Linked DNA regions of Homo sapiens. The protein of the gene in region 1 interacts with the protein of each later gene in a biochemical or structural test. Each region holds a gene or a part of one and is shown in the gene's direction. Other genes may lie near its edges. The genes, in order: CTNNBL1, SUMO2, CDC5L and PRPF31.

Region 1 (6,404 bases):
CTGATGTAAGCTGAAGTCTGAGAACCAAGGTTCTAGAGTAATTATGTCTAGATTGCTTGATAAAACCTTACGATTTGACTGATCATCTCATATTTATTCAGTAATCCTTGAGTGATTCTTAAGTGAGTGGCACACTGGTGACAGCATTCTAGTGTTGGATTTCTCCTTTTTGTACTGGTAGCCTAGCAGTATATAGAGATATTCATGGATCTCTTCATCCAACAAATCAACCCCCACTAATTTATTCTTATGAGGATAAAAACCACTGCAGATGATTGCATTAAATGGATTAACAGGTAAGTAGATAACAGTAGTGTGAGAGATGCTGCATCACAATTAATGTTTTTAATGGGGAATACAAGCTTATTAAGATATTACGTACTATTGAAAATAACAGCAAAACCAAGTATAAGATTCCCTCTTGTTACCCAGTTAAATCAATGCTTCAGAAACAGTTGCAGCGTTCAGTTAAGTTATATTACATGTACAACTGGTTGATGCTAAAGTTCTTAGCCTCTATGACCAGAGGTTGGGATTTTGTAGGGCACAATCTGCTTTGACAATTGTACAGAGCTGTAGATATGTCTGAACCTGCCCCATGTGTTCCAGGTAGCAGAGGTGAGCTACAGATATAACCTGCAGCTTCTGGCTGTGAGTGGTAGCATAATTGTTTTGTACTTTCCAGAAAAGCAGCAGCTCCCAAAAAGGTGAAGTGTAATTTTATTCAAGGCTAGTACATGCTGAGTACAAACCTATGCATGACTCTATAATTACTCTGACAGCTGAAAGATTTAAGAGAGCCAGGCTCCTGGATAGAAGAGAGCCCTACAAGTTCCAAGTCCCGCTGATTAACTTTGCAAAATCCAAGAGACTATACCTGCTAAGTAAAATCTCCTTTCTCCTGATTTTGAATAAATGTCTTTGAAATTTGGCAGTTTGGTATTGTGCAATCTCTGGCTGGGATTTAAACAGAAATAAAATATGCTTTGTAAGTGTTGTCTTTGGCTAGACATGAAAGATTACTTTCCTTTCTTCCCACCTGGCCTAATTTCTTCTATTTCTTTTCTACCAGATTAAAACATTTGGTTGTCATCATCATCATCATCACCACTAAGTTTTCATCATCTGATATGAGTTTCATGTATTGACTGCTCACTACATGCTAAAGTGTTTTTCTAGAACCTTCTTCTTTCTTTCCTGTCTTTTTCTTCTTTTTCTTTCTTTCTCTCTTTTTTTTTTTTTTTTTTTTTTTGAGGCAGGGTCTCATGCTGTTGGCCAGGCCAGAGTGTTGGTGCCATCACTACTCACTGCAGCCTTAACCTCCCAGGCTCAAGTGATTTTCCAACCTCAGCCTCCCAAGTAGCTGGGACTTCAGGTGCACACCACCACACCCAGCTAATGTTTGTAGTTTTTTGTAGAGATGAGGTCTCACTATGTTGCCCAGGCTGGTCTTGAACTCCTGGGGTCAAGTGATCCTCCCGCCTCAGCTTCCCAAAGTGCTGGGAGTACAGGTGTGAGCCACTGCGCCTGGCCACATACATTATTTCTAATCCTCACAAACAGCCCTGCCAAGAGGGTGCAGCTATCCCCAATTTACAGATAAAGAAATCCCAGAGAGAGAGGAAATGGTGTTGCCCAAACCACATGGGAACCACGTGAGAGAGCCTGTGAGCATTGGGCCTTGGCATCTTTGAAGCCACCTCCTCTTGCCAAGCTGCTTCTCAGCTGGCACTGCTTTTAGGTTCTGAAGCATTGCAGAGCTCAGCGTTGGGGAGTTATCGGGCCTCATCATTTTGGTTTCCTGATTAGATTCTTCCTTCATGCCAATTTCTCAGTCAGAACTTATATTTTAATTTAAAAATGATGAAGTTATCAGTCTGGTTTTTAAAAACTTACTTTGGTTAAATTGGAAACTCTTAGTAGTGTCTTACAGCAAAAGGTGGAGATTTCCTGTGGAACCAAGAATTCTCAGTAGCAAGAAACTCAGCTGGTCGGTGCCTGTTATGTATACACCAGTTCCCTTAGTACAGCCACTTCATGAGGAAGATATTAATTTGGCCAGTCTCATAGCTGGTAACTGTTAGAGCTCAGATTCTAATGCAGATATTTCTGGTTATGGTTGTCAGAAAAACTTGTGGTACCTACTGTGTGTTAGGTACTTTCATATTATGTTTTTAAATTCTCATAGTAACTCTCCAAATAAGTGGGATTTTTTTTCTATTTCTTTTTTCTTTTTTTCATGTCAGTGCCCTTAATCAAAAAAGTGCTATTTTTTATTTTCATTTTACAGATGAGGAAACTGAGACTGAGAATGTTTCTTGGGTCATAGATTCCCATTGTCAGCTTACAGCATTCTTAGTGTCTCAGTAATTCTGTTTTTACAGCACCGCTATGCCAAAAAGTACCTAATAGTCTCATTTATTAAGTAGTTATGTCCAAACCATTTAATATATATTTATGTCCTTACAATTTATTAGCCATTTGAGAAGATAATACACACAAATTGAAAGAAAAAATATTTTTATTTCATTCTTAAATATCATAGTTACTTCCTAATGGTATGTGTGCCTTTTGGTACTGCTCAAATCCTTAAACCTTAGGATCAGATTGAACGCTACGACCATCATTCTGATTTCACATCGATTTTCACAGTTATTTTTGTCAGAGCAGCTATCCAAACGCAGCTCCACAAAGATATGATGTCACCAGAAGAAATGTAACTTGAGCTCCTGGTTAATGCAGTGTTCAACAGATGTCACATTTCACTGTGTTCTCCTTGAAAATTTAACATATCCTGTGGTGAATTAAATATGACACCCCAGTTGCCACAGCGCAAAGTTGGAGAACTGCAGATTTGAGTCAACCTTAGGTGTGTCTAATGCCAGATCTGTGTTTTATTTTCCTTTTTTAAAATTTGATATTTCTACAAAATTAATTTTAATTCAGTGTAAGGTTTTTAAATGCCACAACAGTGGACAGAGTTCAGATCTAAGTTACCCCTGTTTGTTCTCTTGCTTAATTCTGTGTCTTCCCTATAGCAGGTGCCTAATAAGTATTTATTGAAAGGAAGAAAAACTCCCCCCAACTTGAAAACAGGAGCTTACAAAATTGAATAAAGGACAAGAGGCATTAGATCCACAGAAAGGCCATGGCTCTAGTGACCTACTGTCTTTTGGCTTCTTTCAGTTAAGTGTCTTGTTTTAAACAAGAACCATGGCCCTTGCAATGCTAATGTATAAGTTGGTGTGGCTTAAATCTTTTAAAATATAATAGCAGTACTTGGAACTTACATAATTTGAGTGGGAAATTTTATTCGCAAATCCTTGATTTTGATAGAGATGCTTACTCCTTGGCTTTTCACCTTCATGTTTTGATTTTCGTTAATATGAAACCATTTTTCTTAAAGTGAAACATACCACAGGTTGCATTTAAGCCCTGACTATTATGCTGAATTTCTTGAAACAAGGCTTCAAGCTCGCCCAGGGAGCATACCTTACATTTAGCACATGTAAGACCTTGCATTTATAGATCTTTTAACCTAAGATGGTCATACTTGGTTGACCTCCTGAAACCCTGTAGGCTGCACTTAGCTTGATGAGGAAGACGTGCACAGAAAACTGAAATGATACTGAATATTGCTTGATTAGGTACAACTCTTCCTCTTTAAGTATAAAACCAATATCTAAACAGATCTGTGAATGGCGGTAAGGTGACGGAAGTGTTAGTTCCAAGATAAACACTTCCCTTGTCTTTTCCAAGTACAGAAATTCTTTGTCATTTCAAAAACACAGATAGGTAGCAAAGGTTGCTGCTGATTAATAATCATTGTTTACATGCCTGCATTTTAAGGATCATGGGCACCATAAATAAAAACACACCACTGAGACTCGCTCCTCTCTATGCACCTTTATCCAGGGGGCAGTGATAATGGTGAGATATTTAAGTCTCACTACCGAAGCAACACTGAGGACAGCCATGAAAGATAGTCTGTGCAGTAGATGTGTCCCCTCTGAAACTCCCAAATAGCAGAGCATGCAGCGGGGAAAGAATTGTGGGTAGTAATTTGGGTGTTAAAATATTAACACATTTTTGCATATTTAATGTGGTTTCTGTTTTAAGTAGTAGGCAGATTATGGCATGCAAGCAGATAAGTTTATGATTTCAAATTAAATTTTAAGCATTAAAAAAATCCAGAAGGAACTACTTTGTGATAAATACATTCAGTTAATCAAGAATTGCTTTCTTCTCTGCTCATATATTAACTAATTTATAGCCTAATTTCATGATTGTAACTTGTGAATTAAGCTTCATGGTGAGTTTTAATCTTAAAAGTTCAAAACTCTCATTCATCTAGTTCACATTTGGGTACTATGGGCTAGACATATATAATCTCTGGACTCAAAATGGGAAATCTTGGAAGTCTTCACCGAGGAGGTAACCTTAATACCTGGGCATTAAGAGTGTGAGAGCCATTGTTTCAATCTGTCACTTTACTTGGTTCTGGTCTCTTGAGAGCAGAGGCAGACGTTTTTACCCTTAACTGCCTTTTCCTTTTCTAACTTCTGCTTCTCTCTAACTCAGATCATAGTACTCGTGAAAAATTTGTCCTGGGGAAGGAAGCAAGACCCCTTAACATTTTTCTCATTTCTCCTATTTCCCCATAGGCAAAGATGCCTTTTGATGCCAACAAACTGTATTGCAGTGAAGTGCTGGCCATATTGCTCCAGGACAATGATGGTGAGGCGCCCTCTCAGTATTGATATTCTGTTAGGATAGGAGCCAGGCTTGTTTCAGATCATGACAGCAAGCTCTCTTGCCTTTGGCATCCCCTTGCTCTCCCTCTCACTCCCTGTGCTGCTTTTGTACTCTGTCAAGCTGTATTGATTTTGTTTGCTGATGTATCAGTGTTAGACGGCTGTAAAATCTGACAGTTAGGTTCATTTTTTTTCTTCCTCTATTTTTTTCCCCTTTAGAAAACAGGGAATTGCTTGGGGAGCTGGATGGAATCGATGTGCTTCTTCAGCAGTTATCCGTGAGTAATTCTTATGCTTCCTGTCTGCTGTAAGATACATGGTCTGCTTTGAATGGGAGGTGGAGCTGGAAACTGTGGGAAGGAATAAGCCATGTGCTGCAAGCCATATGGAGCATGTTGGCAGGTTTGAGGGTTATACGGAGGGACATGGTTTGCCTCCTTTTCTTAGTCATTTGCTCTTTATGACCAGACATCACTGTGTATCAGTTCTGAACTTTCTTCATCTTCTGATATGATATTGTCAACTCAAAAAAGATGTGCCTCATGCTTAAGTGTGTATGTTCTGGGCCAAGCATACCAAATTATTTTCATTTGACCCACTGCCAAGATTATTCACCAACCTTCCTTTCAATCTGCTGTGAAAATGGAGTATGTTCATTTAGGATCTGAATAAGCTCAAGGAGTACAAGTTCCACTGCAGTGGGGTGGGGGTCAAGGGGAGGATAGGGGAGGATGTGGTGCTGAAGGCTGGAGTGAGAACTTGGAAACTGCCATTTTCTCACTGTAAGAAATGTAAATCCAGTTGAAATGTTATTCTGCTGGCATTCTGAAAATACTGTTAAGATTTCCTCTTACAAGTTTTAGCTGTGTTATTCTAAAAACAGGACTGAAAATAGATCATTTGGATAAAATCTTAAGAGTGTTGGGAGAGTCTGAGATGTCAGTTTGCATACAGCTTCCATCTTGGTGCCAGCAGCCTGAGTGTCTTGGCCTCCACCCCAAAAATAGAGCTTTGAAATGTGAATCTGTTTCCAGTTCTGGGAAGGTGCTTAGTCCTTTTCCTGTGAGATTATTGATCTTCTTGTAGTAGACTGTATGGGTATGCATATACAGTTTAAAGGCTTCTCTTAACATGCCTTACATCTCTGGCAAAAAGAAAACTAATGCTGTAAGCCCTTCCCATGAATTAAAGCCCCAGCTCCCCTGTGAGGGAATTCAGTAGCCTTGGTTGTCAGGAAATGCTTCCTTATATTGAGCCACGATTCAGCCCTCTGGATTGTGGTTGCTTTTAGAAGGGAAAGAAATGAGATATGGTTGGGTTGGGCAAGTGGAGGGCTTTGAGGGGAGTTGGCAAAGTTGTTTCTCATCCTGGATAATGATTTCAGGGGTGTTCACTTCATTTAGTTTTATATGTCCTTTATGGAGTTTTTCTGTATCTGTGTTATATTTCACGATAAAAAGATTTTGTTTTTTATTGGGTTTTGGTTTTTAAAAAAATCTGCTTGCCTGGAACTGTCAATTACTGATGGACCCAGTGGTCAGTAGAGTGTTTTGGCTTTTTTTTTTGCATGTATTTAATATATGTGAATCATTTAGTTTCTCTAAAATGGAAACTGATGAGAATTTTGTTTGGTGAGCTTCTGTTTCCTCA
Region 2 (6,404 bases), on another chromosome or scaffold:
ACTGCACTTCAGCCTTGACAACAGATCAAAACTGTCTCAAAAAAAAGAAAATGAAAATCACCCCAAATCTTTTTACCTATAGGGTATGTTAACATGTTGGCAATTGTTTATTTAGGTATTTCTTTAATATATTCATGGTTAAATATGCATGTACTTTTATGTAAATAGAATTCTGTTTCTCTTAATGCTGTTTATTGCTTTTAAATTCTCGTTCAGGGATTGTCAATGAGGCAGATCAGATTCCGATTTGACGGGCAACCAATCAATGAAACAGACACACCTGCACAGGTAAAAAAATCTCTCCTAATTAGAAAAATTACCATTTGTAATTCTTTGAACAGCTGTGTTTATGAATTTGAACGTTTAGACACTGGAGTATAAGTTCTTGTAGAGTTCAGAGCTTTGGGAAGTATGACCAGAGGGGAACAGAAAGGAAAATAGGAATAGGCTCAGGAAATGCCAATGGTTTTTATTCATTTATTTTTAATTTTCATTTTAATTATTTTTTTAGGGACAGGGCCTCTCTGTTGCCCGGGTTGAAGTGTAGTGGCCTCATTATAGCTCACTGCAGCCTTGGCCTCCCAAAGTGATGGGATTATAGGCACGAATCAATGTGCCCAACCCCACCAGTGGTTTGTGTTTGTTTTTTGTGACGGAATCTCACTCCATCGCCCAGGCTTGAGTACAGTGTCACGATCTTGGGTCATGGCAGCCCTCGCCTGCCATGCTTAAGCAATTCTCCTGCCTCAGCCTCCCAGAGTAGCTGGGATTACAGGCATGCACCACCATGCCTGGCTAATTTTTGTATTTTTGGTAGGGATGGGGTTTCACCATGTTGGCCAGGCTGGTCTTGAACTGCTGACCACAAGTAATCCGCCCGCCTTGGCCTCCCAAAGTGTTGGGATTGACAGGTGTGAGCCACCGCACCCAGCCAAATCCTCACCATTTTAGTTCTACATGCTGAATTGAAATTCTCTTTTACGTGTCTTCATGAACAAAAAGGAACTAATAGCCCTAATTGCCACGTCCCATAGCTTTGTTTGACAGGGAGAGCCCCTGATAATAGGAGATTTTCCAGATCCTTACTACAAAACGTGATGCTCTCTGATCCTTTAACTCTTTATGTACCACTTCATTTTGTTCTGTCACTTTCTGTAGGATCAGCTGGATTGTCTTCTGTGGCAGAAGCTCTTTGTTTCTTTTTACCCTTTCAAAGTTCCATTAAATACTTCCAGTTTTGTCCTAGCAGGGTGGCTCATGAGAGCCATTTTCAAGATTACAAAGTGCTTGTAATGCCAGCACTGTGACGCCAAGGTGGGCGGAGCACTTGAGTCCAGGATTTCAAGACCAGCCTGGGCAACATGGCAAAACCCTCTCTTTACAAAAAAATACAAAAATTAGCCAGGGAGCAGTGGTACGTGCCTGTAGTACCAGCTACTTCTTAGGGTGAGGTGGAAGGATTGCTTGAGCCCAGGAAGTGGAGGCTGCCGTCACCCAAGATGGTACCACTGCACACCAGCCTGGGTGACAAAGTGAGGCCCTCTCTCAAAAAAAAAAAAAAATGACTTCCAGTCTTGTCCTGACTTGGTGGCTCACACCTGTAGTCCTATCACTTTAGGAAACTGACACTGGCAGGAGGGTTGCTTGAGGCCAGGAGTTTAAGACCAGTCTGGGCAATATAGCAAGACCTGGTCTCTACAGGAAAGAAAAAGAGCTGGGCATGGTAGCATGTGTCTGTAGTCCCAGCTTCTTGGGAAGTTTAGTGGGAGGGGTGCTTGAGTCCAGGAGTTTCAGGCCGCAGTGAGTTATGATCATACTACTGCACTCCAGCCTGGGCGATAGAGCAAAACTCTGTCTCAAAAATAGAAGACTTACAGTTTCTGAAACATATTTTACAATGTTGTGATAGTAGAAATTTAAATTGGATCCCATGTACTTTTGAATTTCAACTTTATCACCCAGTAAAAACTAGAAAGTGATAAATGTGGCATGAAGCAGCACATCCAGATTGTAGTTTTGTTGATAATCTTTGAAAATTGGAAAAGCCCCTGAGTTGTACTGAAAAGAAGAATATTTTGAAGACATTTCAACTGGTGACAGTCTCTCAAAAGGAATTACGGGCCAGGTGCACTTGTTCACACCTGTCATCCTAGCACTTCAGGAGGCTGAGGCAGGCAGATTGCTTGAGGTCAGGAGTTTGAGACCAGCCTGGACAATATGGTGAAACCCCGTGTCTGCCAAAAAATACAAAAATTAGCCAGGCATCGCCGGGCGCAGTGGCTCATGCCTGTGATCCCAGCACTTTGGGAGGCCGAGGTGGGCGGATCACCTGAGGTTGGGAGTTTGAGACCACTCCGACCAACATGGAGAAACCCCGTCTCTACTAAAAATACAAAATTAGCTGGGTGTGGTGGCCTGTAATCCCAGCTGCTCGGGAGGCTGAGGCAGGAGAATCGCTTGAACCCAGGAGGCAGAGGTTGCAGTGAGCCGGAGATCACGCCATTGCACTCGAGCATGGGTAACGAGCGAAACTCAAAAAAAAAAAAAAAAAATTTAGCCAGGCATGATGGTGCACGCCTGTAGTCCCAGCTACTCAGGAGGCTGAGGCAGGAGAATCACCTGAACCCGAGAGGCGGAGATTAAAGTCAGCAGAGATAGTGCCACTGCACTCCAGCCTGGGTAACAGCCCCTGTCTCAAAAAAAAAAAAAAAAAAGTCTGGGTACAGTAGCTCACGACTGTAATCCTAGCACTTTGGGAGGCCAAGGCAAGTTGATCACCTGAGGTCAGCAGTTCAAGACCAGCCTGGCCAACATGGCGAAACTACCCCGTCTCTACTAAAAATACAAAAATTAGCCGGGCATGGTGGTGCTCACCTGTAATCCCATCCCAGCTACTCGGGAGATTGAGCCAGGAGAATCTGGGCGGGGGAAAGGTGTCAGACAGTCGAGGTTGCAGTGAGCGCGGAGGTCATGCCACTTCACTCTAGCTTGGGTGAAAGAGTGAAACCCTGTCAAAAAAAAAAAAAAAGGCGCAATTATGGTATGTAGCCACAAGGAGGAGCTAAATTCTATTGATAAATGAGGCTGGTACAGGAACCTCATTTTTTAAAGGCATTTACAGTTTCACTGTAAAACTTCACATTTGGATAATTTTGTTTTAGTAGATAGATGACAGGCTTGTTTGGTTTTAAAAGAAATAGTAAAAAGTATCTATTGTGCTGTACTCTCAGTTATTAGAATGTATTTCCTGTCTTTAAGCCCTCCTTACCCACCACTAAAACGGGATTATCTGCTATAGTAGTTACAAATATTAAACAAGGAGTTATTTGTTTGGATCCGTGACCTTGAGGCATTTTAAAATCTTCAGGTTGAATTTGCAATTCATTTTACTTCATTTTGAAGAATTTGGAATTGATTCGTTTTAGAATTATTCTCCCAATATTTGTTAGATAGCAGGATTGTGATAAATTAAAACATCTTAGCAGGCCTCCTGCCTCCCCAGCTTTTTTTTATTTTTTTATTTTTCGAGACGGAGTTTTGCCCTGTCTCCCAGACTGGAGTGCAGTGGCGTGATCTCAGCTCACTGCAACCTCTGCTTCCTGGGTTCAAGCGATTCTCCTGCCTCAGCTTCCCGAGTAGCTGGGATTACAGGCGCCCACCATGATGCCTGGCTAATTTTGTTTTTATTTTATTTGTTTATGTTGTTTTTATTTTATTTTCTGTATTGACGGAGTCAGTACAAAATTAGCTGGGCATGATGGCGCATGCCTGTAATCCCAGCTACTTGGGAGGCTGAGGCAGGAGAATTGCTTGACCCGGGAGGCAGAGGTTGCAGTGAGCCAAGATTGCGCCATTGCACTCCACCCTGGGCAACAACAGCGAAACTCCATCGCAAGAAAAAATAGAAAAACACAAATGTAGTCATACAATAAGCTGCTTTGCTCCTTGGGGTGTACTTTTTTTTTTTTTTAACTGCCCCTTACAGAGCATGGCTAACTTATATAGTCAGTGCACCGAGTTGGCTGCTGCTTAGTTTTAAAATTGTGTTTTTAGCCTAACACTGTATCTACTGTATCTTAAAGATATTTTCATTTCTGTACATGAAAATCTTATTTTTTAACGGCTATATGGTATTTAATATCTGAGCATACTATGTTTTATTAATTTGGGTTTTTTTTTTTTTTTTTTGAGACCTGGAGTCTCGCACTGTCACCCAGGCTGGAGTGCAGTGGCGTGATCTCAGCTCACTATAACCTCCACCTCCCAGGTTCAAGTGATTCTCCTGCCTCAGCCTCCTGAGTGGCTGGGATTACAGGCACCTGCCACCATGCCCAGCTAATTTTTTGTATTTTTAGTAGAGACGGGGTTTCACTATGTTGGCCAGGCTGGTCTCGAATGACTGACCTTGTGAGCCACCACGCCTGCCGTGGGTTTTTTGTTTTGGTGTTTTTTGTTTTTGTTTTTGTTTTTTGAGACAGAGTCTTGCTCTGTTGCCAGGCTGGAGTGCAGTGGGGCAATCACAGCTCACTGTAACCTCCACTTCACGGGTTCAAGTGATTCTCCTGCCTCAGCCTCCCGAGTAGCTGGGACTACAGGCGTGCGCAACCACACCCAGCTAATTTTTGTATTTTTGGTAGAAACAGGGTTTCACCATGTTGGCCAGGATGGGTTTGACCTGTTGACCTGGTGATCCGCCCACCTTGGCCTCCCAAAGTGTTGGGATTATAGGCGTGAGCCCCGGCGCCCAGCCTAATTTGGGTTTTTATTGAGATTTGTTTTCAGTCTTTGCTAAGCAGTGCAGCGAGATTCTTTAAACATATCACCCTTCTGTGGGCCCTCGACACAGACATATTCAGCTTTCATTTATTTAATTTTTTTGAGACAGTTTCTTGTCACATGCAATGGCATGATCTTGGCTCACTGCAACCTCCACCTCCTGGGTTCAAGTGATTCTCCTGCCTCAGCCTCCCAAGTAGCTGGGATTACAGGCGTGCAGGCGTGCGCCACCACGCCCAGCTAATTTTTTTGTTTTGTTTTTTGTATTTTTAGTAGAGACTGGGTTTCACCATTTTGGCCAGGCTGGTCTTGAACTCCCGACCTCAGGTGATCTGCCTGCCTCGGCCTCCCAAAGTGTTGAGATTACAGGTGTGAGCTGCCACACCCGCCCCCCCCCACCTTTTTTTTTTTTTTTGAGACCAAGTCTCACTCTGTCACCGGTGTTGGAGTCCAGTGGCACAATCTTGGCTCACCACAACCTCTGCTTCCTGGGTTCAAGCGATTCTCCTGCCTCAGCCTCCCGAATAGCTGGGATTACGGGCACATGCCACCATGCCCGGCTAATTTAAAAAATATTTTTAGGCCGGGTGCAGTGGTTCACGCCTATAATCCCAGCATTTTGGGAGGCCGAGGAGGGTGGATCATGAGGTCAGGAGATCTAGACTGTCCTGGCTAACACGGTGAAACCCCGTCTCTACTAAAAATACAAAAAATTAGCCAGGCGTTGTGGCGGGCACCTGTAGTCCCAGCTACTCGGGAGGCTGAGGCAGGAGAATGGCGTGAACCCAGGAGGCGGAGCTTGCAGTGAGCTGAGATCCTGCCACTGGACTCCAGCCTGGGCGACACAGGGAGACTCCGTCTCAAAAAAAAAAAAAAAATTTTTTTTTAATAGGGATGGGGTGTCACCAGGTTGGCCAGGCTGGTCTTGAACTCCTGACCTCAGGTGACCCGCCCACTTCAGCCTCCCAAAGTGTTGAGATTACAGGAGTGAGCCATTGTGCGTGGCCCTAGCCTTTTTTTCTCTTTTTTTGATACAGGATCTTTTGCTTTGTCACTCAGGCTGGAGTGAGCTGGTGTGGTCTCAGTTCACTGCAGCCTTGATCTTATGGGCTCAATTGATCCTCCCACCTCGGCTTCCTGAGTAGCTGGGAGTATGGACATGTGTCACCATGGCTGGCTAATTTTTTTTTTTTTTCCTTTTTTTTTTTGTAGAGATGTTGTCTCCCTATGTTGCCCAGGTGGTCTCGGTCTCTTGGGCTCAAGCAATCCTCCAATGTTGGCCTCCAGTAGTACTGGGATTACAGGCATGAGCCACCGCACCTGGCTAATATTCTGCTTTTTACTCAAAAACTAAGTTTTGGCTGGGCGCAGTGGCTCACACCTGTAATCCCAGCACTTTGGGAGGCCGAGGCAGGCAGATCACTTGAGCTCAGGAGTTTGAGACCAGCCTGGCCAACATGACGAAACCCCATCTCTACTAAAAATACAAAAAAATTAGCTGGGCATGGTGGCGGATGCCTGTAATCTCAGCTACTTGGGAGACTGAGGCAGGAGAATTGCTTGAACCTGAGGGGTGGACGTTGCAGTGAGCTGAGATCACGCCACTGCAGTCCAGCCTGGGTGACAGA
Region 3 (6,404 bases), on another chromosome or scaffold:
CACAGGGCCTTTGATAATGTGAAATTCAAGATTTTTTTTCATGAATAAAGATATACAGAATAATGGAATAAGTCTTGCTCTGGTTATTTTCATTTTGCCTCAAAATTTAGTGATTTAGTGCATTTTACTATGCTTATGACTTCTGTGAGTCAGGAATTCAGACAGGGCACAGAAGGAGTGGTTAGTCTGTGCTCCATGATGTCTAGGGCCTTAGTAAGGAGGACTCAGCGGTTCTGTGTGATTTGATGGATAGGGGATAGAGTCATTTGGAGGTGTTGTCTTTCCATGTCTGGTGGTTGATGCTGGCTGTTGGTGGGGTGGGTCCTCAGCTGGGAATGTGGAGTGAATCTGCATGTGGTCTTTCCATGAGGCTTGGGCTTTCTCATAGTGTAGTGGTCTCAGAACAGTTGAACTTCTCACGTGGTATCTCAGGGCTCCACTGTGAGTGCGGTGGGAAGCTGCGTTATTTTTTCTAAACTAACCTGGGAGGTCAAGCATTGTCACTTTTGTTGTGTTCTGTTGGTTTCAGGTGAATCACAAGCCCACCTAGATTTATGGGGAGGGAACATAGACCCTACCTCTTGATGGAAGGAGTATCACAGTTGGATTTTAAGAACATGAAACATGAGAGAGAAGGTTGTGACCATCTTTGGAAAATAAACTTTGCCACAGGCCCTAAGTTGGACATAAAGAGATTTATGGGTACAAAGATAGCACTGAGGACAGGGTTACAGTGAAGGGACTAAAGAGAACATGGTCAGTTCTGCCTAAAGAGATCAGCAAGACTTCTGAAAGGGACCTGACCCCCACAAGTTGTTTTCTTGTGCAGTGGAAAGGTTGCTTGGGAGTATCTTAAGTTCCCAGTAGAAGAAACAGACCTCAGAGATACTAATGAAGACTGGATAGAGAATTCAGTGGTGAAGCCAGACTAAAACCCAGGCATTCAGACATTTGGCCTAAGCTGGGAAATTTGAATTCTTGTAATAGTAATTTCATATGTGAGGCCACAAAAGCACACCTCTACACATAAAACTTTATTTGATGTATAAAACTTCTTTTTAAATTTTATTATTATTATACTTTAAGTTTTAGGGTACATGTGCACAATGTGCAGGTCTGTTACATATGTATACATGTGCCATGTTGCTGTGCTGCACCCATTAACTCCTCATTTAACATTAGGTATATCTCCTAATGCTATCCCTCCCCTCTCCCCCCACCCTCCAACAGTCCCCGGAGTGTGATGTTCCCCTTCCTGTGTCCATGTGTTCTCATTGTTCAGTTCCCACCTATGAGTGAGAACATGCGGTGTTTGGTTTTTTTGTCCTTGTGATAGTTTGCTGAGAATGATGGTTTCCAATTTCATCCATGTCCCTACAAAGGACATGAACTCATCATTTTTTATGGCTGCATAGTATTCCATGGTGTATATGTGCTACATTTTCTTAATCCAGTCTATCATTGTTGGACATTTGGGTTGGTTCCAAGTCTTTGCTATTGTGAATAGTGCCACAGTAAACATACGTGTGCATGTGTCTTTATAGCAGCATGATTTATAATCCTTTGGGTATATAGCCAGTAATGGGATGGCTGGGTCAAATGGTATTTCTAGTTCTAGATCCCTGAGGAATCGCCACACTGACTTCCACAATGGTTGAACTAGTTTACAGTCCCACCAGCAGTGTAAAAGTGTTCCTATTTCTCCACATCCTCTCCAGCACCTGTTTCCTGACTTTTTAATGATTGCCATTCTAACTGGTGTGAGATGGTATCTCCTTGTGGTTTTGATTTGCATTTCTCTGATGGCCAGTGATGATGAGCATTTTTTCATGTGTTTTTTGGCTGCATAAATGTCTTCTTTTGAGAAGTGTCTGTTCATATCCTTCGCCCACTTTTTGATGTGGTTGTTTGTTTTTTTTTTTTTTGTAAATTTGTTTGAGTTCATTGTAGATTCTGGGTATTAGCTCTTTGTCAGATGAGTAGGTTGCGAAAATTTTCTCCCATTTTGTAGGTTGCCTGTTCACTCTGATGGTAGTTTCTTTTGCTGTGCAGAAGCTCTTTAGTTTAATTAGATCCCATTTGTCAGTTTTGTCTTTTGTTGCCATTGCTTTTGGTGTTTTAGACATGAAGTCCTTGCCCATGCCTATGTCCTGAATGGTATTGCCTAGGTTTTCTTCTAGGGTTTTTATGGTTTTAGGTCTAACATTTAAGTCTTTAATCCATCTTGAATTAATTTTTGTATAAGGTGTAAGGAAGGGATCCAGTTTCAGCTTTCTACATATGGCTAGCCAGTTTTCCCATGATGTATAACACTTCTAATGTGATGTGTTAGATTGATAGAAGGAATGGAAACATTGAAATCTGCCATGACTGGTATTCATTTTCTCTGTTAGCTTTCATTGAGAAAATGAGTAAGGATTCTGCCTGCTTCAAGATTGGTATAGTAGGACCAGAAGAGATTCTGCAAGTCTGTCTAAACTTTTAAACTTGCTTCTTTGTCTTCTTGTTAATCAGGAAGCCCAGAACCTCATGGCCCTCACCAATGTGGACACCCCATTGAAAGGTGGACTTAATACCCCATTGCATGAGAGTGACTTCTCAGGTGTAACTCCACAGCGACAAGTTGTACAGACTCCAAACACAGTTCTCTCTACTCCATTCAGGTATTGTAAATGAACACGTTTTTATTTTAGAAAAACTTGAATTCAAGGACTTAGCATATTTGCTTTAGTAATGTTTACGGAGAATGACTACTTATTGTGTTGGATTTTCCTCTTTGATTTCTTCTTCATAGTAATAAATAATAGTGTCCAGGAAATGGTTAAATACTGTGGAGTGCCTCCCCCCCTTTCTTTAAGATGGAGTCTCGCTCTGTTACCCAGGCTGGAGTGCAGTAGCGCGATCTCAGCTTACGGAACCCCTCTGCCTCCCGGGTTCAAGCGATTCTCGTGCCTCAGCCTTCTGAGTAGCTGGGATTACAGACATCCGCCACCATGCCTGTCTAATTGGAGTGTTCTTTTGCAAAGCTTCGGATCCTATCACGTTATTTTTGAATACTTTGTATTTGATTTTAGAGTAGATTGATTCATTTTTAATGATTACTTTGTGAATTTTATTATGTAATCCTTTTATGTATGTATTACTATTGCTTTCCCTCCAGCATTTTATTATGAAAATTTCAGGCATTTAGAAAGGTTGAAAGAATGTGTGGAAGTTATCAGTATTGAAATGGAGTCATTTATGTTACATTTTAATGAAAAAGGAACCCTCATGCGCGTATGCCTATGACAGAAATTATTGCAGGGACCTTCTGAAAACCACACAAATTCCAGATAAGTTGCTTCTGTGAAGACATTGCCCTACCAACAGCCAGTACAGGTTGAGCATCCCAAATCTGAAAATCCAGAATGCTCCAAAATCCAAACTTTTTTTTTTTTTTTTGAGACGGACTTTTGCTTTTCTTGCCCAGGCTGGAGTGCAGTGGCGCGAACTCGGCTCATCACAACCTCCGCCTCCTAGGTTCAAGCAATTCTTCTGCCTTGGCCTCCCGAGTAGCTGGGATTACAGGCATGCGCCGCCATGCCTGGCTAATTTTGTATTTTTAGTAGAGACAGGGTTTCTCAGTGATGGTCAGGCTGGTCTCGAACTCCTGACCTCAGGTAATCCACCCGCCTTGGCCTCCCATAGTGCTGGTATTACAGGTGTGAGCCACTGCGCCTGGCCAAAATCCAAACTTTTTGAGCACCAACATGACACTCAAAGGAAACGCTCATTGAAACGTTTCAGATTTTGAATTTCCTGATTTGGCATGCTCAACCAGTAAGTATAATGCAGTTATCCCCAAATCTGAAAAAATCCCATATCTAAAACTCTTCTGGTCCCACATTTCAGATAAGGGATACTCTTATCTATACCGGCAATGAAAACAAATGCCACCTCCTGTGATAAGTCCCTGTAACCAATGGTCTTTGTTTCAGAACAGTTTGCGTAGACTCCTCCCTTGTATCTTTAAAAACTTCTCCTTGCCCCAGCACCCTCAGTTGTACCTATGGTCTGTCATAGCACACATATCCCACACTGTAATCCCTTGCCGTTCCCGAATAAACTCTTTGTTTTGGAGACCCGGTCTCTCACCCATTTAAGTTGACAAATGGTAAAGTGAACATCCATATACCCACCACTTAGATTCTAAGATCGTTAATATTTTACTATATTTGCTTTATCACATATCCATCCACCAATCCATCATAATTTTTAATGCATTTCGAAGTAACTTGCAGGTAGCAGTTTGTTTGATCCCAAAACACTTCCACATGCGTTAACTAGAATTCAGTATTTCTTTATAACTCTTGCTTAGTTTTAAGCTGCTGTTTTTTAAGAAGAATCTTTAAAATACAAATGTTATGGAAGCATGTAGTAGGAAAATGGAATTGGAACTTACAATGGTTGGAAATATTTGGGGTTTACTTTGAATTTTAAGTGTTAAGATATGTCTTCCTACTGGTTATTTAGTAGAGAAAGCACTTCAGGCTATTACACATATCATGACAGCAGAACCAAGAAGCATTGGCAGCCAGTCTTAAACATTTAACACTTCTTGAGAGTCTTGTAAGAGAGCATAATCCCTCATTTCCTATGTTTAGTCGGCTCTCTGTATCTGAGGATTCCACATCTGTGAATTCAACCAACTGTGGATAAAAAATATTCCAAAAAACTCAAACAGTACAACAATAACAAATAACACAAATAAAAATACAATGTACCAACTATTTATATAGCATTTACATTGTATTAGGTATTATAAGTAACCTAGAGATGATTTAAAGTACATGGGAGGATGTGCATACGTTATATGCAAATACGATGCCGTTTTATATCAGGGAGTTGAGTATCTGCAGGGAGTTGAGTATTGGTCCTGGAACCAATCCCCGGTGGATACTTAGGGACAACTGTATGTCTTGTCTCTCACCTAGATTGTAAAATCCTTGGGGGTGGGAACCATGTCTTATGTGATAACACCTTACCTATCAGGAATAGCTGTCTGGCAGCATCACCGTTCTGCAACACACCAATATACAGGAAATAGGCAACCAGGAAAAAAAAAGACTTTGAATAATTAAAATATAGGTTGCTGCAAAATCTGTGGATCTTATTCCTAGGAGAATCTCTTAGGCCTCACTCAGGAACTTACTCATGTTTAGATGTGATTTCAAAAGTGTGGTGTTTGGTTTCCAAACAAAATGTAAAAGGAGGAACTATTTAATAAAGTGTGTACATTTGTAATAATGACAGTGATAGTGATGTGAGAACCAACAGCTTGATAGGGAGGGAGGAGACAAATATACACAAAACTCAAAGAGTCATCTGGGGTCATTGAGTGTGGTGGCCCACCTCCCTGCCCACTGCATGTTCTTAGTCGCCCTAATGTGCCAAGAAAAGGTTGAAATAATGTTTAGTGGACGTAGTTTAGGAAGGCAAGAAAATATCAAATGTAGTGATTATTGTAAGTCAGTAAAATAAAAATACCATGCTAGCTAGACCAAACATTGATTTTAACCTAGAGATCCTAACAAAACCAGCTGGACAGAATTTTGAAATCTTTATTCTTTTTTTTTTCTATATTTCCTGTGAAATAATTTATGTGAAAAACATTTGAAAGCACAATCCAAATGTAAGTGGCACTTCTGTTAATTGGGATTCCTGTCTTTCTAGGACTCCTTCTAATGGAGCTGAAGGGCTGACTCCCCGGAGTGGAACAACTCCCAAACCAGTTATTAACTCTACTCCGGGTAGAACTCCTCTTCGAGACAAGTTAAACATTAATCCCGAGGATGGAATGGCAGACTATAGTGATCCCTCTTACGTGAAGCAGATGGTAAATGTCAATTCCCTTTTAATACTCTTAAATTTTTTTTTAATATCTCATGGATGCCAAATTAAAATTTCTCCTGTTAGTGCATATCACATATACCTTAAGAATCTATACACCTGTGGATGCCAGAAAAAGAATTATTTGTAAGACTTGATGAAAGGGAATATTTTGGGCTCAAAACCCACCTTTCTTTATGCTTACTAGGTTTGTGAATATTGATGTTCGTTGTTGATTTCACTGAAGTTTTCTTTAGCAAGCTGAGGTAGAAAGCTAACTGTAAAAAGTTAAGTTTTGCTTCTGCCCGTGTTACTGCGTTTATTACTTTGCTATTGGGCCTTATTATCTAATGCCACAGAAATCATTGTGAAATTAAAAAAAAAACTTCTAATGATACTGGCTTGTCTTCAGTTTAAAATTAATTCTAACCTCATGTATATATTTGGTTGATTTATATATGTTTTTTAAAGTTCAAATTGATATCAACTAAAGCCAACTCTGAATGGATACATAAGAATTAAATAGATTAAGAACC
Region 4 (4,672 bases), on another chromosome or scaffold:
GAGCCTCCTTTGCATCTGCCCCTTGCGGAATGGGCCAGGTCGCCCGCCTGGCAGGGCCATCGAGGAATCCAACCAGAACTTCATGTAAAGGTGCCCAGCACACGTCGAGCCCCCAGGCAGATTTACTCACCCCCACCTCTCTGCTTTCTTCTGACCGCCCCCCCTTCCTCCCTCCCTCCCACCGCAGGTGTGGCCGGCGGCCTGACCAACCTCTCCAAGATGCCCGCCTGCAACATCATGCTGCTCGGGGCCCAGCGCAAGACGCTGTCGGGCTTCTCGTCTACCTCAGTGCTGCCCCACACCGGCTACATCTACCACAGTGACATCGTGCAGTCCCTGCCACCGGTGAGCCCACTGCGTCATGGCCCCTCCCCCGGCCCCCCTGGAGCCTTCCGCTGTGCCCAGACAGCCTGAGCAGCCACCCACCATCTGGCCCAGCTGACGGTAGCACTCAGGAGCTGGGAACAGGGTGGCATGGGACGTGAGAGCCAGGGCTCTGCAGCAGACCAGCTCCAGCACCCACCAGTCAGGTGACTGTGGGCAAGAGGCATGAGCGCCCTGTGCCTCAGTCTCCTCCCCTATCAAATGGGAGCACAGCGCCTGCTTCATGAGTTGGGACGAGGGCTCAGTGCACATGAAGCACTTACAGTTCAGGCCTAGCTCACGACAAGCAGCGTCGGGTTAGCGTGCAACTGCTCCGAAGACCACCCTCAGGTTTGACCATTCACTAGAAAGACTCACAGAATCCACTGAGGGCTGCACATCAGCCATGGGGAGAGACACACAGGAGGGGCAGGAGAGGTCACCAACCTCGGAGCTTCCCGGGTCCTCTCCCTGCAGTCGGGACACATCACCATCCCAGCATCGACGCCTGACAGCACACACACAGGCCCGCTAGCCTGGCGGGGCGCAGTGGCTCGTGCCTGTCATCCCAGCACTTTGGGAGGCCGAGGCGGGCAGATCACCTGAGGTCAGGTGTTCGAGACCAGCCTGGCCAACATGGTGAAACCCCATCTCTACCAAAAATACAAAAAACTAGCTGGGTATAGTGGCACACACTTATAATCCCAGCTACTTGGGAGGCTGAGGCAGGAGAATCGCTTGAACCCAGGAGGTGGAGGTTGCAGTGAGCTAAGATCATACCACTGCCCTCCAGCCTGGGTGACAGAGTGAGACTCTGTCTCAAAAAAAAAAAAAAACAAGCAAGACAGGTTCTGGGACAGACAGGCCTGGGTCCAGACCCTGCTCTGTCCAACTGTGGCGAGTTACCTCAGGCTCACGGCCCTGTGCCCTGCCTGGCCTCCCCCAGGGATGGGGAGAACAATAGCACTGATGGCCAAGGCTGGGCAGGCACTTCCTGGCCCCACCCCCCAGCCCTGTGTGGGGTTTTTTTTGTGGTCTTTTCTGCGACCCTTTAGGTCAGGCACTGCTACTGGAACACACCCAGGGAGGCTGGCAGGTCACCCCATCCTGGGAGGAGAGAGAGTGGGCGATAGAACCCAGGACGGGTGGGCCTGGGGCTCGGGGCTCCAGCTGCCTCACTGCACCCCTGCCATCGCCACCGCCTCACAGCCCTGGGCATATGGGTTAAACCTGCCCCAGGGAGCCTGATGTCTTGTCACCCAGGCCTCTGCCTCTTCATTTGGCCATCTCACATCGGTCCAGGCACAGGCCGTAGACACCACAGGCCTGTAAGGGAGGCCAGGGCTGGCCATCGCTTCACTGTGGCTGACAGCTGGGCTCTGTTTGCAGTTTGGATTGGAACCCTGGCTCCATCACCTGCTGGCTGTCTCCCTGGCCACATGACTTGAAGCCTTGGTTTCCACATCTGAAAAGGGGGTGCAATGATCACACCAGCCCGATATTTGAATATTTGATGAGATGATCCGAGGGGCGTGCTTAGCATGGGGCTGGCATCCAGGCCGAGTGCACTCCCCCCGGCGTCTCCACAGTCACCACCGTCCTCGTTGTCAGCGTGCCTTACTGTCATCCTTACCTGATGGCCACTTATCAGCTGGGACATGGCTCTGTGCCCTGCCCTCATCCCCTCTTCCTGTGAAGTAGGAGCTGAGAGCACACACCTCTAGAGCCCAAGGGTGGAAAGCCCCCTTCCAGGACCCCAGGTAGAGCCAGAGGAGGAGCGCGCGCGGTTGCTTTGCTGTTACCTCTGTCTGTCTGTCTCACACAGATTCCACCCCCGTTTTCCGTTGCTCCAGGATCTGCGGCGGAAAGCGGCCCGGCTGGTGGCCGCCAAGTGCACACTGGCAGCCCGTGTGGACAGTTTCCACGAGAGCACAGAAGGGAAGGTGAGGAGGGAAAGGTGAGGGGCGGCCGGGCGTCTTTTCCTCTGGGCCTGGGGTGTCTCTGCAGGGAGACCCTCAGCAGGGAGCCCACCCCAGCGAGCACTGTCCTACCAAGGCGGAGGCAGTGCTTCTGCCCACCCTCCCTGGGGTCAGGCACCCCCTTCCCCAGTGGGGTTTCCTAGGTCTGCTGTTGGAAGGTAGCATGAACCTACTGGCTTAAAACAGTGCAGGTGTGGCCGGGTGCAGTAGCTCACGCCTGTAATCCCAGCACTTTGGGAGGCCAGGGTGGGCGGGTCACAAGGTCAGGAGTTTGAGACCAGCCTGGCCAACATGGTGAAACCCCATCTCTACCAAAATTAGCCGGGTGTGGTGGCACGCACCTGTAATCCCAGTTACTCAGGAGGCTGAGGCAGGAGAATTGCTTGAACCTGGGAGACGGAGGTTGCAGTGAACTGAGATTGCATCATTGCACTCCAGCTTGGGTGACATAGCGAGACTCCATCTAAAAACAAAAACAAAAAACAGTACAGGTTTATTATCTGTGGTCCTGTAGGTCAGAAGTCCAAAATGAGTTTCACTGGGCTGAAGTCAGGGTGTCATCCTGGAGCGTTCCTTCTGGGGGATTCAAGGGATAATCCATTCCCTGGTCTTTTCCAGCTTCTAGGGGTCACTGGCACCCCTTAGCTCGTGGCCCTCCCTCTGTCTGCGGAGCCAGCCACATAGCACCCTCAGACCTCTCTCTGACTCTGCTTCTGTCTTCATATCTCCGCCTCTGTTTTTGTTCCCCTCTTCTATTTTAAGGGCCCCTGTGGCTATACTGAGCCTACTCAGATGGTCCAGGATAGTCTTCCCAGCTCACAATCCTTAAAATCCTTCTTAACCTCTTCACGTCCCTTTTGCCCTGTGATTCTGGGAATTAGAACATGGGCCTCTTTGGGCATGTGTGTGTTGGTGGGGGCGTAATTTGCCTTCCACACCAGGATCTGTCCCCGCTGCAACAGGGGATGTTATTCAAGTAATTATTCAGTTACCTTCTGTCTTCCTTGGTAGATGTACTCGGGAGAGGAGACGTTTTCTGTCTTGTGAACTGTCGTTTGCCAAGCACCCGGCCTGGCACAGCGTTCAGGTGTTCCGTGTCCCCTTCTCCTTTCCCTCTCCCCATCTCACCCCTGGTCTGGGTGTGGGGGTGCAGCTGTGAGTAGCACAGACAGGACCCCTGCCCCGTGGCGTGGACATTCTTGTTGGGGCCGGGTCAAAGAGACAGTCAACAGGTGAACTCTGTCCTGCGTCTAGCGGTGCTAAGTCAACACCAAGAAGAAAAAGAAAGGGGGTGGCGGTGAGGCAGCATTAGGTGCTGATTTAACTAAGGCACGTGGATACTCGGGGGGCCCGCTCAGAGGAGGCCTGGGTGGGCAGCCCACGCGAGCAGCTGCAGGACCTCCCCCTCGCCCTCCCCAGGTGGGCTACGAACTGAAGGATGAGATCGAGCGCAAATTCGACAAGTGGCAGGAGCCGCCGCCTGTGAAGCAGGTGAAGCCGCTGCCTGCGCCCCTGGATGGACAGCGGAAGAAGCGAGGCGGCCGCAGGTGAGGGGCCCTGGGGGTCCGGTAGGCATGGGGGTCATGGAGGGGAGAAGCCGGCGTCCTCCTCCCAGCCGACTCCCTGGCGCCGCCCACCCACCCGTCCCCAGGTACCGCAAGATGAAGGAGCGGCTGGGGCTGACGGAGATCCGGAAGCAGGCCAACCGTATGAGCTTCGGAGAGGTCAGACTCCCAGAGCGCCCTCCTCAACCCCACAGCCAGCCAGCCGCCACCGCCCTCTGCCTCCTGCCACCGCCCCTCCTCTCGTCCTGTGGCCCTGGCTCATGTCTAGGGCGCTGCCCCAGCCTCCCCCCCCCCGGCCTCTATTCTCGTTTCCATCCGTTCAGCCCCAAAGCGACCCTCGCGACCCTTGGAGCCTGTGTCTCCGCTGCTTAGAGCCCCCGCGGCTTCCCATCGCCCCGGGCTCCTTGGCCGGTTCCTCCCTGCCCAGAGGCTCCTTAGTGCCCTGCTGCACGGCCGCCCCGTCCCTGGGCCCCGCCAGTCTCCTCTGTTATCCCAGCGTCATCCCCTTGGTCCTGCAGGACCGAACTCAGAGGCCACCTCATCCTATTAAACCTGTTCTGGTTCCTGACATCCCCCGACCCACACGAGTAAGGAAGGAATGGCCTCCCAACTCTGAGCTCACAGAGCAGTGCTGGGACCGGGCCCCTCTCAGGCTCCCCAGCATCCCCCGCGTGTGTGGGCCCCCAGGCCTCAGCCGGGCCGAGTGGGTACCGGAGCAGGTGCCCGTGGGACCGGCCGGCTGGTGACCGCTGGGCTTCGGGCTGG

What was found.
Region 2: the proteins of CTNNBL1 (region 1) and SUMO2 form a complex in vitro, tested with the Homo sapiens proteins (one large-scale study listed by BioGRID).
Region 3: the proteins of CTNNBL1 (region 1) and CDC5L form a complex in vitro, tested with the Homo sapiens proteins (3 studies listed by BioGRID and IntAct, with this or other methods).
Region 4: the proteins of CTNNBL1 (region 1) and PRPF31 interact in a biophysical measurement, tested with the Homo sapiens proteins (one study listed by IntAct).

What each region holds. Positions count from the first base shown.
Region 1 is NC_000020.11:37,772,681-37,779,084, forward strand, and holds part of CTNNBL1 (beta-catenin-like protein 1), read left to right. Parts: intron 1-4,664; coding exon 4,665-4,737; intron 4,738-4,973; coding exon 4,974-5,032; intron 5,033-6,404. UniProt on the Homo sapiens protein: Component of the PRP19-CDC5L complex that forms an integral part of the spliceosome and is required for activating pre-mRNA splicing.
Region 2 is NC_000017.11:75,168,636-75,175,039, reverse strand, and holds part of SUMO2 (small ubiquitin-related modifier 2 isoform a precursor), read left to right. Parts: intron 1-216; coding exon 217-288; intron 289-6,404. UniProt on the Homo sapiens protein: Ubiquitin-like protein that can be covalently attached to proteins as a monomer or as a lysine-linked polymer.
Region 3 is NC_000006.12:44,416,935-44,423,338, forward strand, and holds part of CDC5L (cell division cycle 5-like protein), read left to right. Parts: intron 1-2,514; coding exon 2,515-2,663; intron 2,664-5,712; coding exon 5,713-5,875; intron 5,876-6,404.
Region 4 is NC_000019.10:54,124,312-54,128,983, forward strand, and holds part of PRPF31 (U4/U6 small nuclear ribonucleoprotein Prp31), read left to right. Parts: intron 1-187; coding exon 188-345; intron 346-2,188; coding exon of another isoform or gene 2,189-2,216; coding exon 2,217-2,306; intron 2,307-3,761; coding exon 3,762-3,889; intron 3,890-3,993; coding exon 3,994-4,066; intron 4,067-4,672. UniProt on the Homo sapiens protein: Involved in pre-mRNA splicing as component of the spliceosome. Required for the assembly of the U4/U5/U6 tri-snRNP complex, one of the building blocks of the spliceosome.